Regions from separate parts of the Homo sapiens genome. Here region 1 is linked to region 2. A link means that fine-mapping ties the variant in region 2 to the expression of a gene that starts in the linked region. Tissue or cell type: tibial nerve. Region 2 holds a variant in brackets; the other region holds the start of a gene. All regions are shown on one strand. Distances are between the middles of the regions.

Region 1 (8,339 bases), 26 kb after region 2:
CTGCTGGTCTCCTGTGATCCTGAAACTTCTCCTAGGCATCTGTACTGCTTTGCAAGCAAAGCAGTACTGTACTGTACAGCTCAACAGAGCTGTACTCACAGTAGAAGAGAATAAAGCTAAAAAAATATGAAACAACTCTGATCATTCTCTTTTTCAGCATCAGAAAATGCAGATTTGGGGGCAAGAAGAAGAGATGAGAGAACAAATCCAGTGGCTGGGGAGAAGCTTTCAGGTCTACCTGAATCCTTATCAAGCATGGTAGAGTCACACAAAATCCCTGCAACGTAGCAGGCTCTCCCTGCCCTTACTTTGTTTTTAATAGCCAAAGAAGCTCTCTCTAGAAAAAATATGCACTTTCTGCTTTTTAAAAAGGAGGAAAAAAAAAAAGCAAGCTTTGGGAGAGAAGAACCTATCCCCAACCCCCTTTAAGATGCAAACTTTCTCACTTCCTCAAAGAAGAGTAGTGCACTAAAAAGAAGGTTGCACCCGGAGAGCATGTAAAGTGTCTCAAGGGGGACATCTGAAGTGCCCCGTTCCCAGGGAGCCCACTGGCTCCTCACAAGTAATCTAATGAAAGCTATGCATTCTCTCTGGGCTCCTCATATGAAAAAACCCAATGTATGAAGCAAAGCCTAGAAAGGATTCAATACTGGAGAAATGCACACAGCTACCAGCTTTCTTCCTTTCTTGTTTTCCTCTTTATAAAGCAAAAAAACAACCTGTCCCCCACTCAAGGCTCATTTAATCCTATAAGCTTCTTTATTGGCCTAAGTATCCAGTGAAGATAAATTAGCAATCAAAACCAAGTCAGAAGTGTGTAATAAGCAAACACATGAAACAAGTTAACTTCAAATATTAACCTGCAGTCTAAGGGATTTTTTGTTTTTTTAATTTAAAACAAACAAAAGAAATGACAGGCAAAGTAGATACTCTCGGAAAATACACATGTACAAATGGCCTGTGCTCTGATCAAATGTAATTAAGCACTGAACTTGTCTTAAATTGCTTAATTGCTTGAGAAATGCATCAGGCTCCCACAAAATCTATTTAAATATTTTTTCATCCTTCTGAGCACAAACTGACGTGTTTAAAATGACAAAACTATTAAAATTATAAGCAGAACTGCACCTTGACTAACATTAAAACCACGTCAGAAAGTTCAAGAAAATTAAGCTAATGAAAATCAGTAACATAACCTCAATACTAGTTTGTGATTGTACTTTTATGGCTTTACTAAAGTTTAACAATAAAATGGGGGGTAACTAAAAAGTGTTCTCCCTCCTTTCAGAGGTCCCTGAAAAAACATACCCGCTGCAGCATCAGCGGGTATATGCATTCAAGATTAAGCAAGATGAAACAGGGAATCATGACCAATATTCTCCATCTAAACCTTACAGGCCTACCTCAGCAGCTGTGATCAGGATGGGAGTGGATATGAGGGGAAAAGGGCAAAAGGACAGGACAACTGCAATGAAGATGATGATTATTCTTTTTATTTATCTTTTTGAGACGGAGTCTCGCTCTGTTGCCCAGGCTACAGTGCAGTGGTGCGATCTCGGCTCACTGCAACCTCCACCTCTCAGGTTCAAGAGACTATTCTGCCACAGCCTTCCAAGTAGGTGGGACCACAGGCACATGCCACCATGCTGGCTAATTTTTTTGTATTTTTAGTAGAGACAGGGTTTCACCATATTGGCCAGGCTGGTCTTGAACTCCTGACCTCAGATGATCTGCCCCCCTCAGCCTCCCAAAGTGCTGGGATTACAGGCTTGAGCCACCATGCCGGGCCGAAGATAATTATTATAAAGGCAGCTAACTTTCTGTGAACTCTTATTACATGCCAGACACTGTGTAAGTGCTTGACATATGCTTGATATATGTAACTGCTTGACATATGCATGAATTCATTGAATTTATTCAATTCTCTCCCTACGAGGCCAGTACTAGCATTAGTCTACTTTAGAGATGAGAAAACCGAGACACAGAGGTAAAGTCCCATGTTAATACTGCATGAGGCAGAGCTAGCATGCAGACCATCCAACTTCTTATATTGAACTGTAGCCCATCTGTACTCAAAACACATCAACTAATTCGTCTCTGGCACTCAATAAGCAAAACAGATTTACCCTATGCCAAAAGCTGTTGGTCAAGGAGCATAAAGAATGAAGCAATACTGCCTAGAACTGCATGCTACAGGGTAGGGTGCAAAAGCAGATAAGCTAAACCACTGCAAAGCATTGCTCACAAATGTTTTAGAGGATTGGAGCTGTCAACTAAAGTAACTGAGGTTTTTCCAAACTGTGTTACATAAGGATGGAACTGTTTCTTATGGTCGTCCACTTTATAGATTTCTGGTCTTTATAACCTTTCAGAATGACAGTTCCATTATGTGTCCAGCCTATGGCATAAATAGCTTTTTTTTCCCTTAAGTTTCAAAAGGCACTCCCTGGTCCACCTATTTAAGAGTTTGATTGACAAGCACAAGCCTGTGTTCTCCATTAATGTCAATCATTTCTCCTTACTCCTTTGTCAGGTGAAAGCTCCAACACCATACCTGTAATTTTAGGTATTGCCCCTCTGCCTTTTAATGCAACACAACATCCATTTTTGGCCAATGATGGATGCAGCATTCAAAGAACTAAGCACTCTGATTTTCTACAAAAGTTGAAGTGACGCTTTCTACTTAGTTTCTAATCTTTTTCCACTGCTGTCTTCAAGGACACCAGCCACAAGTTTCTGGATCCATTTCCCATAATGTTCCTGGAGGCTGCTTAAGGCCCTAATATTTTGTTACTAAGATGTTGTTAAAATGTTTCTAAAAAACACATTGTTCTATTCCTGCTCACAACAAATCTCACTCTCACAGCCTTGGGAGATTTGGGTGGAGCCTGGGAATACAAACGTACTCAAACTAAACTTTCTCTTGAGTATAACCTGTGGAACTTTTAGGTTAAAGGGAGTTACTCCTCCCAGTCCACATACAACATAGATTATGGGGATACTATAACCTAGCAGCCAGGGGATCCACACAATAAAAAGGGCAATGTATGTCCAAAATTATGGTCTCAGAGGAAATGGGAGACTGTAAGAAGTCATATAAATAAAACATTACAGGGATATAGCTTTTAGAAGAAAATGCAATCAAATAAAAACGTTGTAAAAAACTTGCCAAGGAGAAGAAAATTGAGATATATAATACCTAATAGTAAAAGGTTTTTTTGTTTTTGTTTTTAAAAAGCAAGCATGAAAGCGTGGACTTGGTTGGAAACAAGACATTGAAAAAGTAAACTCTCTCATGACTGTAGCCACAGTAGTACTGTCCCCAAGAAAAATTAGATGACTATAACCGCCTTCCCCAACAAACCAAGTTGCAAAGGACTGAAATGCTAAGAATATAATCAGCTAGGATACGAAAACCATGGTTCTCCAATGTGAGCTGAAATGGAATAATTTTTAAAAAAAAAAAGTACAAGCATTACAGTAGCCAGGTAATCAATCACTCGCACAACTGAGCCTGAACCACAGCTCAGCAGAACAATGGAAAAGCCCTGAAGATGTACAATGGATAAAAGACTTGTTCCGGCTGGGTGCAGTGGCTAACGCCTGTAATCCCAGCACTTCGGGAGGCCAGGCGGGCGGATCACCTTTGGTCAGGAGTTCGAGATCAGCCTGACCCACAAGGTGAAACCCTGTCTCTACTAAAAATATAAAATTAGCCGGGCGGGGCGCCTGTAATCCCAGCTACTCGGGAGGCTGAGGCAGGAGAATCGCTTGAACCCGGGAGGCGGAGGTTGCAGTGAACCGAGATCGCGCCATTGCACTCCACTCCAGCCTGGGTCAAAGAGACTCCGACTCAAAAAAAAAAAAAAAAAAAAAAAGAGAGAGACTTATTCCGCTGCAGCGCCAAAATCGCAAGCTCAGAACTCTGCACAGACGGCACTATTTCAAAGGTCAAAACCAGGACCTCAGCAATCTTCCATTAGGTGACTTTACAAAGTGCTACAAAAGTCATGACTACTACTATTCTTTACAACCTAGCAAGCGAAGGAAAGACCGGGGAGAGCCGGGAGGCCGTTTAGGAGAGAAAACTACTTTGACAAAGACTGCACAATTACAGAATAAAAATCAAAAATAACTGATAGAATTAAAACTGATCGCAGTTCATGTCTTTGGCAGCAAACTCCCGTTTGAGCCGAGCAGGAACAAACGCGTTATGCCTGAACCTTGTGCACATACAATTCTTTCTTCTCTTGCACGGCCCGCTTCCAAAATGCATTCACCGCCACTCTCCATGGAACCTTCAGCGGGCCCTGGGGGCAGCCAGAATTTTCCAAACGAGGAAGCTGAGGATCGGCCCAGAACCCTGAATTTTGAGGGGAGTGAGACTTGGGCCCTCACAGGCCCAGACGCGAGATATTTCAACTACACCCGGGAGGCGCGGGGTGAAAACTCCCTGGTGTCGGGCGGGTGCAGGCCCCTCGCGGCCGGTCGCGCCAGAGCTTCCACCTCAGGGTGGGCGGCCAAGCGCGTGGGCACGCTGCAGGGAGGGCCGCTCACCTGGGCAATGCCGGCGCCCATCAGCCCGCCGCCGATGACCGTCACGTGCTTGACGATTATCTTCTTGGCCGAGGCCGAGGCGGTGGACGAGGAGGACACGGAACGCATGAACTGCCTGGTGACGAAGGCCATGGTGTGGCAGCGGCGGCGACAGCGAGGAGACCCGGGCAGGGAAGACGCGCGAGGCGGGCAGCCGCGGAAAGCCAGACTCTGGGGGCGGGGACCTACGCGGCCCTGCAGCCCGCGCGCCCCCGGCGTCCCCGTGACGCCACAAGGCGGGGGCGGGGCCTCGAGTCCCGCTCTGCCCATTGGCCCTGGCTGTAACGTCCCAGCGTTGAGCGGGTATACACGCGCGGGCTCGCAGCTGTCAGCAGCCGGAGCCCGAGTGAGCGCGGGCTTGAGACCTGCTGAGCAGCGGGACCTGGCGGCTGGCGTTCTGGTGTGGGGCCGAGAACAGACCCTTCTTCTGAAAAGCCACTGGCCCCTTGTTCTATGAAGTGAGTGGTGTTGACTCTGTAAAATGCTATCCTTTGATGACATGTGCATATCTAGGCTCTGAAGAAATATGTGCTGCTTGGCTGTGTTGGTAATGGACCCAAAATGTGCACCGTTGGTTGATGTCACCAAATAATCAACTCGGGATTATTTTAATCCCGTGGACAGTGATTGTTTCCCCTAAAAGGGAAATAAATGTAGACTGCGAACACCCAAAACAAATGTCTAGTGACCATGAGTTACAATGCAAAAATCAGGCTCAGGGAAGGTAAAGAGAGAGTTGACCTTTAGTTACCCATCTTGACGTTGGACGTCTATCAGTGCAGTGAACATGTGGACGGTTTAAGGTCATAGAGCAACCTTTCTGGAATAACGAATACTATTAGAAAGCATAGGAAAGAAATGTCTTGTCAAATAATGGAAGACTGGATAGCAGCTTGGCCAATCTTCTCACTCAGGTGAATACTTTCTAATTACTGTAACTTAGTGATATAGGATTCTTATTAATTTATTTGCTTTATGTTTAAATATTGTTAACAAAAAAACTTCAAACAAGTTTAGCAGAGTTTATCTGAGCAAAGAAAGCATGAATCATGTAGTATCCTGAGCCAGTAAAGGTTCAGAGAGCTCCAGCCCCTAACAGTGGGCAAGCCGCGTTTATAGACAATATTTTTTGCAGCCTGTAATGGGCTAAAAGCTCCGCTGCGGTGATTGGCCAAGACTTGGCCACTTGTTAGAAGAACGTACTCTCAAATTACATTGCAGTTTATTTACATATTAGGTTTGATTATGCTTTGCTAGGTAGGGAGGCAACTTTAGGCCAGATTTAATTTAATAACAGTTTCCTCCTTTGGGTCAGCCTCTCAGTTTTACGAGATTGACCAGAACCTTGTTTTGTCTCAGTATGGAAGTCACAATGTCAAATTAGTTGAGTGATTATACTTTCTTCATGTTGTTATTCTAACTGTAATAACACCATTTGGTGTACAAAGGATGGCTGCATAGAGACATTGAAGACTCTCGAGGGGACAACAACACATCAGGGAGACTATTATGGCCACGAGAAGGAGTATAGCAATAAACTGAGGTACACACCTTAACAGGAGTCTCCACAAACTGAACTGATCAAAATTAAACAATTCAAAGTTCAGGCAATAAAGATAGTTCAAAGTATTTGAGTCCAATTGGTCATGGTCTAATTTAGGGCATTATGGCGGTTAAGGACTGCTAGAAATGCTTATTTCTTGGTGCCGTAAAGAAATAGCACTTGAACATAAAATTAATTTCTTTAGCAAGGCCATTTTTACTTTCTGCGGAAAGAGTACACTCGCCAGCAGTTTTGCCACAAGAGTACACCGAACAAAGGAGGCAGGGTCATTTATAACCTGACCCGTCCACCTTACTGTTGTGACTGGTTTCCATTGGCTAGAACGGGACTTCACATTCTGTATTTGTCTTGATTGGCTAGCAACTTAGAAATTCTTAAAAGAGGCAAAGGCAGAGGAGAACAAAGGAAGGAGGAAGTAACTTGTGGAATGCTGAGAAGGGAAAAACACCTCTAAATAAGGAAGAGGAACAGGCTATGACCTAATGCCCACTTGGACCAGTATAAGCATGCCAGGGCAAATATTTAGGCTAAATTGTGGGAGCTAAGAACATAAAGTACATTGATTTCTTTATTACAGCTAGCAGATATTTAAGAATGTTAACAGGTCTTTGAATAAATTTTGCTTCTAAGAGAGGTTACTATTTATTCCTAATCAGATGAGGAGGAAAGTCTTTGAAAAGGAACCTCTACTTTACTTTTTACAAGGACCATAGTTCACTGAATGACCTGATTCAGCCTTATGGCCTGATTTAAAGAGGTATCCATTTTTGTAATTAGCCTGGTAACACAAGTTATAATAACCTGGAGAGCCACTAAAGAAGCATAAAGATTAGAAAAGTTTGGAATAGCCTAGCTTGCCTTTCACTACTCAGGATGCCTACAAACCAACCATTAGCTGCTCCCATAAATGTATCATGTGTTCCTTTCCCCTGAGAAGTTTCCTTAATATATTCAGTGGCAGTGTTTAGAGAAACAGCAGTATCTGCCACCTTTTAAATTAAGTTTTCTATAGTAGTAAAATTAGAGGAAAAATAAGTGCAACATTCAGTTTTATTCAGCACCATGCAAGAGCCCCCAGCATGAGCAAAGAGGAGATCCAAAGTTGTGTAATGTTCCATGAAGTGTGTTTGTTGAACACAAATGTTTTGATCCACTGAGAATATTTGAGTAGCTTCTACCATGTGAACCCCTAGGAGGTCTGACTGGCTACAAATTCAAGATTTTCCCCAATTTATAGATTAGTTTCAAATTCCATACAACAGGCACCCTGCTAATGCCAAGAGTGAGTTCCAGCACCTCCATTGGAACCTTTCCTCAGTAGAAACTAACTTGTCTTCATTTATTTTTAGGTTGGTGCTTACTTTGGTTATTGACTGCTTTAACCTCTGATTATGAAAGGTATTATGGGAACTTTCAGGGAAGGCTATTGGGATGTAGGAGCGAGCCAGGCCAAATAGCAAGATCTGAACCAGTGAGGAAACAACAGAGAAGGCAGGTCAGATTATCCACCAACCCAATGTAGGCCCTTGGGGGCTTGAAAAGAGGGCCACTTAGTGGTGTTTGAGCCGAGGTCAGTTAAATTTGTCCACCCACAAGTTGGCATAGCTCCTGAATAAAATCCAGTGGTGAACTTACTCTTCTGTGGTCCCTATATAGCATGTTGTAAGGGTGCAAACCACTGGATCTAGTAAAAAGACTTTGCTAGATTTAATCCAGTGAAATCACACAAGCAATTATTTGTACCCACATAGGTAGTCCCCAACGTCTTAAGTATGCAATGCCCGGAAGCACAAGATACCTTTTGCAGGCATCATTCTGATAGTTTTTTTTTTTTACTTTTATGTACAATTGACAAATAATAATTGTACATATTTATGGGGTACAGTGTGATGTCTCAATGCATGTATATGTTGAACAATGATCAAATCAGGATAATTATTAAATAATATGTCACTTTAAGCATTTATCATTTCTTTTTGGGGATAACATTCAAAATCATCTCTTCTAGCTATCTTGAAATATACAATACATTATTATTAGCTGTAGTCATTCTACTGTGTAATAGAATAGCAGCTTTTATTCTTCCTGTCTAACTGTAACTTTGCACCCATTGACCAATCCCCTCTATCCAGATTTTTTATATTTGGTAACAGTTTGGTTATTAACTGGAAAGATCAAG
Region 2 (8,339 bases):
CCCCCACACTTCGCAGGGCAATAACTCCTCAACCTCAGAACAAATGCTACTTTAATAGCGGCTGCTCCTCAGACCCTGTAATTAGGACCCTGTAAAAGGCAAGTTGTCCCATTTCAGGTGCAAATTGCCTACTGTGACTCCAACTCCAACATATTGGAGTCTCCAAGCATTCCAAACAGGATGCTGGGGAAGCCCTCCCTGCCTCCCCGCTCCACCTTCCAGGTTTATGGTCAGGAGGCTCAAGGCTATCAGAAGCTGGTTTTATTTTTTTACTTTTAGGGTTTTTTTATTCGATATAGGATCTTGCTCTGTCATCCAGGCTGGAGTGCAGTGGTGCAATCACAGCTCACTGCAGCCTCAACCTCCCAGGCTCAATCAATCCTCCCACTTCAGCCTTCCAAGTACTGGAGACTACATGCGTGCACCAAAACCCCTGGCTGATTTTTTATTTTTTGTAGAAATGGGGTCTTGCCATGTTGCCTAGGCTGTTCTTGAACCCCTGGGTCTCAAGCAATCCACTAACTTCCACCTCCAAAAGTTCTAGGATTACAGGCATGAGCCGCCGCACCCAATGGGAGCTGGTTTTAATAGCTCTGATCACAATGCACAGGAGATGTACCTCATCTGGGGACAACGCTAAGGCACCATTACATGGGGTCAGAATTAACCCCAGGAACTGTGGACAAGCTAGTATAGTGTATCTAATGAGAACTGCATTTACAGCATGGGCAAGCTGACCTCGACGAGATAATATGAACACATGTAGCTGCCCTCTGTGTGGTCCCATCCAGCCCACGGTTTCTAGTGCTGCCTTCCCATTCTGATGCCTCTCAGCACTGCCCATCAGCTCTGGCACAAATAAGTAAATGACATTCCACAAAGTTAACAGCCTTTCTGGATATCACTAAGCAAGACACAGGGCTGTGAAGAAACAAAGCATAGAAGCCCTCCTAGATATGAGGCTCAGGGACAACCTTCTACCCTCAGGTTAAAACCCATCCTAGGCAACTGGTGGCAGGGCTGGTGTAACACAGAAAAGCAGGACTGAGAGAGCTGGCAGAGCGGGCAGACACACACAAGCTGACACCCACTGACCTCCACAAGTTTCATGACAGGCACTGGGTTGAAGAAATGGAGGCCAGCGAATCGGTCTTGTCTGGTGGTGGCATTAGCTATGCTTGTAATCTGCAAGGAGGAAGTGTTGCTGGCAAAGATTGTATGTCTGTGAAGAGAAAATATAGTGGGAGTATCAGAGTGAATCTCTTCTTTCAAAACAGCATGACTCTTGGATGCAATGCACAAGGTGACTGCTTACTGCCACATCTGTTGTCCTGACCCATTGGGGGAATGAGGGAGAAGACACATCTTCATATAAGAGGCTGAAATCAAGTGACTTCAGCTTTTTAAAAATTTTTAAATTTGAAATAAAATTGGAATTTCCTGTTCCGAAGAGGTATTTAACCTTCACCAATCCTTCCTTGATTTTCCAGAACAAAATTTCCCCTACCTACTTGTATTAGTTAACTTCCAAGGTATGTGAGATAACAAGAGGTGGCTAATTGATCAAGCTACTTAACCAACCCCAGTCACAAACGAAACTCAGTGATCAAAAAATAATGAAAGAAAGACACCTAAAAGCAACAAAATTCTAAATGAACACATAAATCCTCAATCAGAAACATATGATAATAAACGTGAATTAAGATATTTTCCCTGAAGTGAAAAGCTTTATTTTTCAATTGAATGGGAATTAAAATGAAAACAAGAACACCAACATGGTTCAAAAAAATTTTAAGGTTACATGGGTAGATATGGGGAAAAGAGGATATAGGCATATGCATATATAAGACATTAACTTATTCATTAAAAAAAATCCATACTGACTTAAACCAAATTTAGTTCTTTAAGGCCACAGTAAAGTGGCGTGCCAAAAGCATGAGAGGAAAAGCTTTAAACAGGTTGACTTCCAGGCTTTCCTGCAGCGCCACCTTGCGGATAAAAACATACAAACAGGCCTGGTGCTGATTCCAACCAAGATGGACTGTAACAGGGCAGGAAAGGAAAGGATCCCTTACTGACCAGGCTTGGGGGTTTCTGCTTACCTAACAGGCAATACTATAATCTGCTCAAATCAGGGGCGGGTGGGAGGAGAGGAGGAAGAGAAGGGAGAAGAAACCAGTTATTTGGAAAGGAGGGAAAAGAGGTAAAAGGCGAGACCAGTGTGGGTAGGCAGCGGAGAGCCTTCTCTTTCCAGGTATGAGCACATCCACCTTCTCCAACAGCTTCCAAGGTAGGCCATTTAAATGCCAGGGTTTCCTTTTTAAAAAAAAAATGACATTGTTTTAAGGTCTTAAAATTTCAGTTTTCAAAGTTTCTTGCTTTTGGTCATTGGGGAAAATAATATAAACTATTCCCCATTACAGAAGGTAATGAAAAAAAGATCCTCTTCCAATAACAATGTGTGTGGCCAACACAAGCACTGTTCAACCACACAACCTGCACCACAAGCACCTGGAACCACAAAAACAGAGCAGGGACAGCCTGGGCCCAAGGCTGTGCCAGCTGTGGCTCCACACTCCCGTTAAGAAAAGAAAGTGTTATTTTAAAGATTAGTATTACAATCGTAATACCCCTTTTTGTAGAATGTTTGAAGGGCCATTCACCTGCAAAAAGGGGAAACTTGGGCACATTTGGTAAAATAAAGTGACATCAGAGCCCAGTTCCAGGTATCACCAGTCCAGGGCACTCTGGCACATTTTATCAGAAGGAGGAAATGATCTCTCCCCAGCAGACCTCTGCTTCTGCCTCTCCCAACAGGGTCAGGCTGACTTTGTTCCTAAAAGTCTCACACTGTCTTCAGAGAATACTAAACACATAGGACAGTCTTTTCATCCACAAACAAAATGTACTCTGGGCTGGGCACGGTGGCTCACACTTGTAATACCAGCACTTTAGGAGGCCGAGGCAGGTGGATCACTTGAAGTCAGGAGTTCGAGACGAGCCTGGCCAACATGCCCCGTCTCTACTAAAAATACAAAAATTAGCTGGGCATGGTAGCGCATGCCTGTAATCCCAGCCACTAGGGAGGCTGAGGCAGGAGAATTGCTTGAACCTGGGGGGCAGAGGTTTCAGTGAGCTTAAGATCATGCCACTGCACTCCAGCCTGGGCGACAGAGCGAGACTCCGTCTCAAAAAAAAAAAAAAAGTACTCTTACATGTTCCTGGAAACACTTGTCTTGAACCATCTTTTGTTTTTTTCATTCGGACACTCAGGTACCAAAAAAACTACTTTTCTCTTAAATGTTCTAAAAGAAAATCGACAACACAAGCACAGTGATTATTAGCAATGGCCCCAGACCCTAGTATAAAGAAGACAAGAGGGTTGGTGGGGATGGCAAAGGATTCAAGAGTCTGTACTTTGTCTAAAGGGGAAAGTCAGGACTTCGATCTGGCTGCCTGTGCGTCTGGTCATACTTTTCATTTGTGTGTCTTAGGCTGCTGCTAGAGAAGTCATGTTCTCTCCAGGATGCAACTGTTTCATCAGGGCTTCCAACCCGAAATGTATCACTTGACTATATTTTCTTCTCCCATTATAGGATCGAACTGTAAAATTTGTCAGTAAAGTACCTCTCAATACGGCTGCTTAAAAATTGTAGCAAGCATTCAATAATGGTGGTGATCTAAAACAAAAACAAACAGTGCCAAGAAAGGTGGAGAAGGTCAGCAGCAAAGTCACATCTTTGGTATGACTATGGGTCATGCCTTCTTTTCACACCTCATATCTGTTTTGCATCAATTCAGGTTAAAGAGCCTAGTGTAGTGCCTGATACACAGCAGGCACTCAGGAAATGTGAGCTAAATGAAATGAGTTTCCTAAACAACTCTGTACAATAGGTACCAGTGCTGCTGCTCCTATTTTACAAATGGGGGAAGCTAGTCTTAGAGAGTTAGAGCCAGAAAGGTCTAGGAAATTATTTACCCCAATCACCTCAACTTGCATTACAGATGACGAAACTGAGGACCTTTCCAAGGCTGGAGGTGGTGAGGGGGTCAGCACCAGGCCCAGGCCTCCTGACTTTCTCCA[G/A]TGATCCTTCTTCTGTACCAGACATGGACAATGGAGGGCAGTCAGGCCTTTCACTGTCACCAAGAGCGACCAATCTTTTCAATAAAGATCAAACTGCTTGACAAAACTCCCTTTTTTGGGGTGGCTGTTTATTATCCCAGAGGGCTCCCTGCTGGCCTGGGAGCCAGTCCCGGTACCACAAGTATATTCTGTTTTTGTCAGATGTCTCTGTAGCCTCTAGATGCCAGTGTGAAATGCACGAGGACACTGATTGGCAGTGATGGACAGATGACAGAAAGGCAAGTCTCTTCTCTTTGTCAGGGGCAGGGCCTCTCTGGCCACAAGGCCACCCATCTCTGAAGGTTAACATTCCGACAAGCTGGTATGCAAGTGACTCTCTTTAGCCACTGCCCACCGGAAGTGCCCTGAGAATTGCTTTTGTCATATAATCTTATTCTGCCATTCAATTCCAACCAAGAAGCATGAAAATATAGTCAAACAAGTCACTAGAAGAGCACTGATCAGTGGGTCAGGTGTCACACACTCGAAGGCTCTGGATCCCAAGGTACATTCTGCCAGGAAGAATTCCACCAGGAAGCCAGCCAGCTAAGAAGTCAATGCTCCTTTAACACTCCCAAGAGTACTTCGATTGAACCCAGATGAAGCTCAAAACAGGAAAGTCCTCTCTGTCTATAGGCATTCCCTTCAATTACACCATTCTGTTTGCTCCATCCAAAAAAGGAGGAAACACAGAACTGCTCTGAGGGTCCTTGGCAGACAGTTAAGGACACGTAGGGTACTCCTATGCCCGAGAGTGGAGCACAGAAGTACCCTACATGTCCTTAACTGTCTGCTGTCAGATGTCTCTGCAGCCTCTAGATGCCAGTGTGAAATGAACCAAGGAACGTCAGAGCAGCTTCTGGCATAGGAGTATCCATGACCTACACACTTCAAGAAACATAGGCCTGTCCCTGGATGGACCCCTCCATGTTACCATGGGTAATTCTACACGCATCTGGGACAAGGATCAGATCACAGCAGCCCAAGCTTCAGAAGCAAACTGGGAGTGGGAGGATGGAGAACAACGGAAACCATATTGGCTTTTCTTGAAATAGCTGTGGGGTAGGAGAGAGGGAGGTGGATAAACTTGGTCAAAGGATCCCTTCCTGGGAGAAGGCAATAAACAAGGAGGAAAGTTCAAGGCCCAGGGAGGGACCCCTCAGAATCTGTCAAGAATGTCCAGGGGTCATGAACAGATATTTTTCAAAAAAAGACACACTAGTGGTCAATAAACATATGAGAAAATGCTCAGCATCACTAATCAACAGAGAAATGGAAATTAAAACCACAATGAGTTTAGCACCTGATACCAGTCAGAATGGCTTTTATTAAAAAGTCAAAACCAACAGATGTTGGTGAGAATCTGGAGAAAGGGAACCCCTGCATGCTGGTGGTGGCAATGTAAATTAGTACAACCTTTAAGGAAAACAGTATGGAGATTTCTCAAAAAACTAAAAACAGAACTACCATGCGATCCAGCAGCCCCACTATTGGGTATATATTCAAAGGAAAAAAACTCATTCTATCAAAAAGATACCTGCACTCATATGTTTATTGCAGCACTATTCACAATAGCAAAGACACGAAATCAACCTAAGTGTCCATCAATGGCTGATTAAAGAAAATGTGGCATATATACACCATGGAATACTACTCAGCTATAAAAAAGAATAAAATCATGTCTTTTGAAGCAACATGAACAGGAGTGAAGGCCATTATCTTAAGTGAAACAACTCAGTCAAATACCATATGTTCTCACATATAAGTGATAGCTAAATAACAGGTACCCATGGATGTACAGAGGGAAATAACAGACACTGGAGAGTTCAAAAGGTGGGAGGGTGGCGAGGGTTGAAAAATTACCTATTGGGTACAGTGTTCACTATGTGGGTGATGGGTATACTAAAAGCCCAGACTTCACCACTACACAATATAGGCATGGAACAAAACTGCACTTGTACTCACAAATCTATAAAAACAAAAAATAAAAATGAAAAACAAAAATAAGGTTAAAAAAAAAAAAAAAGAAGATTGTCCAGAGGTTACATACTCAGCAGCAAACTTGTCCAGCCTTTTGAAGAGCTCGTTTTTCACCTTCAGATTCTCCACGATGGCTTCCACCACCAAGTCTGTGCTGTGGACAACGGAGGCTGCATCCGTGCTGGTCGCTATGGTGCTCAGGGTCTTCTCCACAAATTCATCGCCGGCCTAATGCAGTGGGAGGAAGAAGAGAACATTCACCGGGCTCACTGGAAATTATCTTTCAAGTTCTTAGCTCTGCTCCAGTTAGCAAACTGGGTGTTCAGAGCACCTGTATTGGCCTACCCTATCTGTTCTCAAAGTGTCCACGAAGCCTGTAATTTATCCTTCCATAGCTCCCTGCCATCCATTAGTCTTGAGGTGGTGCTGACTATTCCTCTCTAATAAAAGCAGAGACTAGCTCCTATTAGAGCAAGGGCAAGAGCCAGGGTAAGAAAGCCGACTTAGCATTTATCAAATAATTATTGTCTGTCATATGCCTGAAACTGTTGTTTCCGAAACAAGCTAGACACAGCCTCTGCTGCCAAAGAGCCTGTAGTTTTCATCGTTTCCTCATTTTTCTCCTGTGACTCCAGGTTTCCACAGACCTCAATAAGGACAGAATTGGAGATGGTGCCTCTATAAGCCGCCATTTTATTTCATAGTGTAATTTGTCCACAGGGCATCAAAATAGTCATAATCAGCAAAGGCATCCAAAATCATCATGGAATAAGCAGCTAGATCTCAGCTGTTATACAGAAATATTCTACTAGCCACATTAAAAAAAGGGAAAAGACATTCGCAGGTGAAATTAATGTTATTTAACCCAATATATCTAAGATGCCATCACTTTAACAGGTACTCAATATTTAAAAATATTGAGATGTTTTATATATTTTTCCCCTATTATAGCTTTAAAATCTAGTGTCTATTTTACACTCAGAGCACATTTCTATCTAGACTAGCCACATTTCAAGCACTCAGTAGCCACTTGTGAGTAGCTATTATATTGGTGGTCAGTATAGAGCTAGATAAGCATAGTATGTCAACTAGGCAGAGAAACTGACACCTCCCTCCTCAGTGGTGTCCCTGGCAGAGGAGAGAAACCTCAGGAGTATAGACTTCTGAGGAGTAGCTAGCCAGAGCTGAGCAACTTGAGCATAGGGGCCATCCTTTTATCTTTAGGGTGTGGCTCAGAAACTCAGCCCAAGGAGACAATTAGCTGAAAGTCTGTAAACAAGCAGAAAATGCAGGCTATCTGGGTCAAACTCACTCTGTCCTAGACTCCAACCCTCAGCCCAGGGCTCTTATAATCTCATCTGTCTGGACCCTCCTCATAACATCCCCTGCATGGGGTCCCACTACAATTAAGAATATAAGGGACAGATGGTCCGGGCGCAGTGGCTCACACCTGTAATCCCAGCACTTCGGGAGGCCGAGGCAGGCGGATCACGAGGTTAGGAGATCGAGACCATCCGGGATAACATGGTGAAACCCCGTCTCCACTAAAAATACAAAAATTTGCTGGGCGTGGTAGCGGGCGCCTGCAGTCCCAGCTACTCAAAAGGCTGAGGCAGGAGAATGGCGTGAACCCGGGAGGTGGAGCTTGCAGTGAGCCGACATCGCGCAACTGCACTCCAGCCTTGGCTACAGAGCAAGACTCCTCCGTCTCAACAAAAAAGAATATAAGGGACAGGTGAAGAATATCTTAATGTAAAAAGTAAAGTAGAAGTTCCTCTTCAAAGAGACTCTCCTCCCCATCTAATTAAGAATAAATAGTAACTTTTCTTAGAAGCAAAATTTATTCTAAGACCTGTTAACATTCTTCAATATCTGCTAGCTGTAATAAAGAAATCAATGTACTTTATGTTCTTAGCTCCCACAATTTAGCCTAAATATTTGCCCTGGCATGCTTATACTGGTCCAAGTGGGCATTAGGTCATAGCCTGTTCCTCTTCCTTATTTAGAGGTGTTTTTACCTTTCTCAGCATTCCACAAGTTACTTCCTCCTTCCTTTGTTCTCATCTGCCTTTGCCTCTTTCAAAAAGTTCTAAGTTGCTAGCCAATCAAGACAAATACATTTGAATGTGAAGTCCCGTCCCAGCCAATAGAAACCGGACACAGCAGTAAGATGGACGTGTCAGGTTATAAATGACCCTGTCTCCTTTGTTCGGTGTACTCTTGTGGCAAAAATGCT

Evidence for each region.
Region 1: it holds the start of HADH, and the variant in region 2 is fine-mapped to the expression of HADH in tibial nerve (GTEx, PIP above 0.99).

The regions. Positions count from the first base shown.
Region 1 is chr4:107,986,283-107,994,621 of GRCh38, reverse strand. It overlaps HADH (hydroxyacyl-CoA dehydrogenase), which reads right to left and starts at 4,733. Exons shown (of 8, transcript NM_005327.7): 1 at 4,558-4,733. The coding sequence starts at 4,689. RefSeq lists a silencer at 4,737-4,966.
Region 2 is chr4:108,012,423-108,020,761 of GRCh38, reverse strand. HADH (hydroxyacyl-CoA dehydrogenase) reads right to left here. Exons shown (of 8, transcript NM_005327.7): 3 at 6,174-6,331; 4 at 1,096-1,222. Among named protein-coding and RNA genes, the nearest start is that of HADH, 27 kb to the right of the region's middle. The variant G/A (reference allele first, on the strand shown) is at 4,085.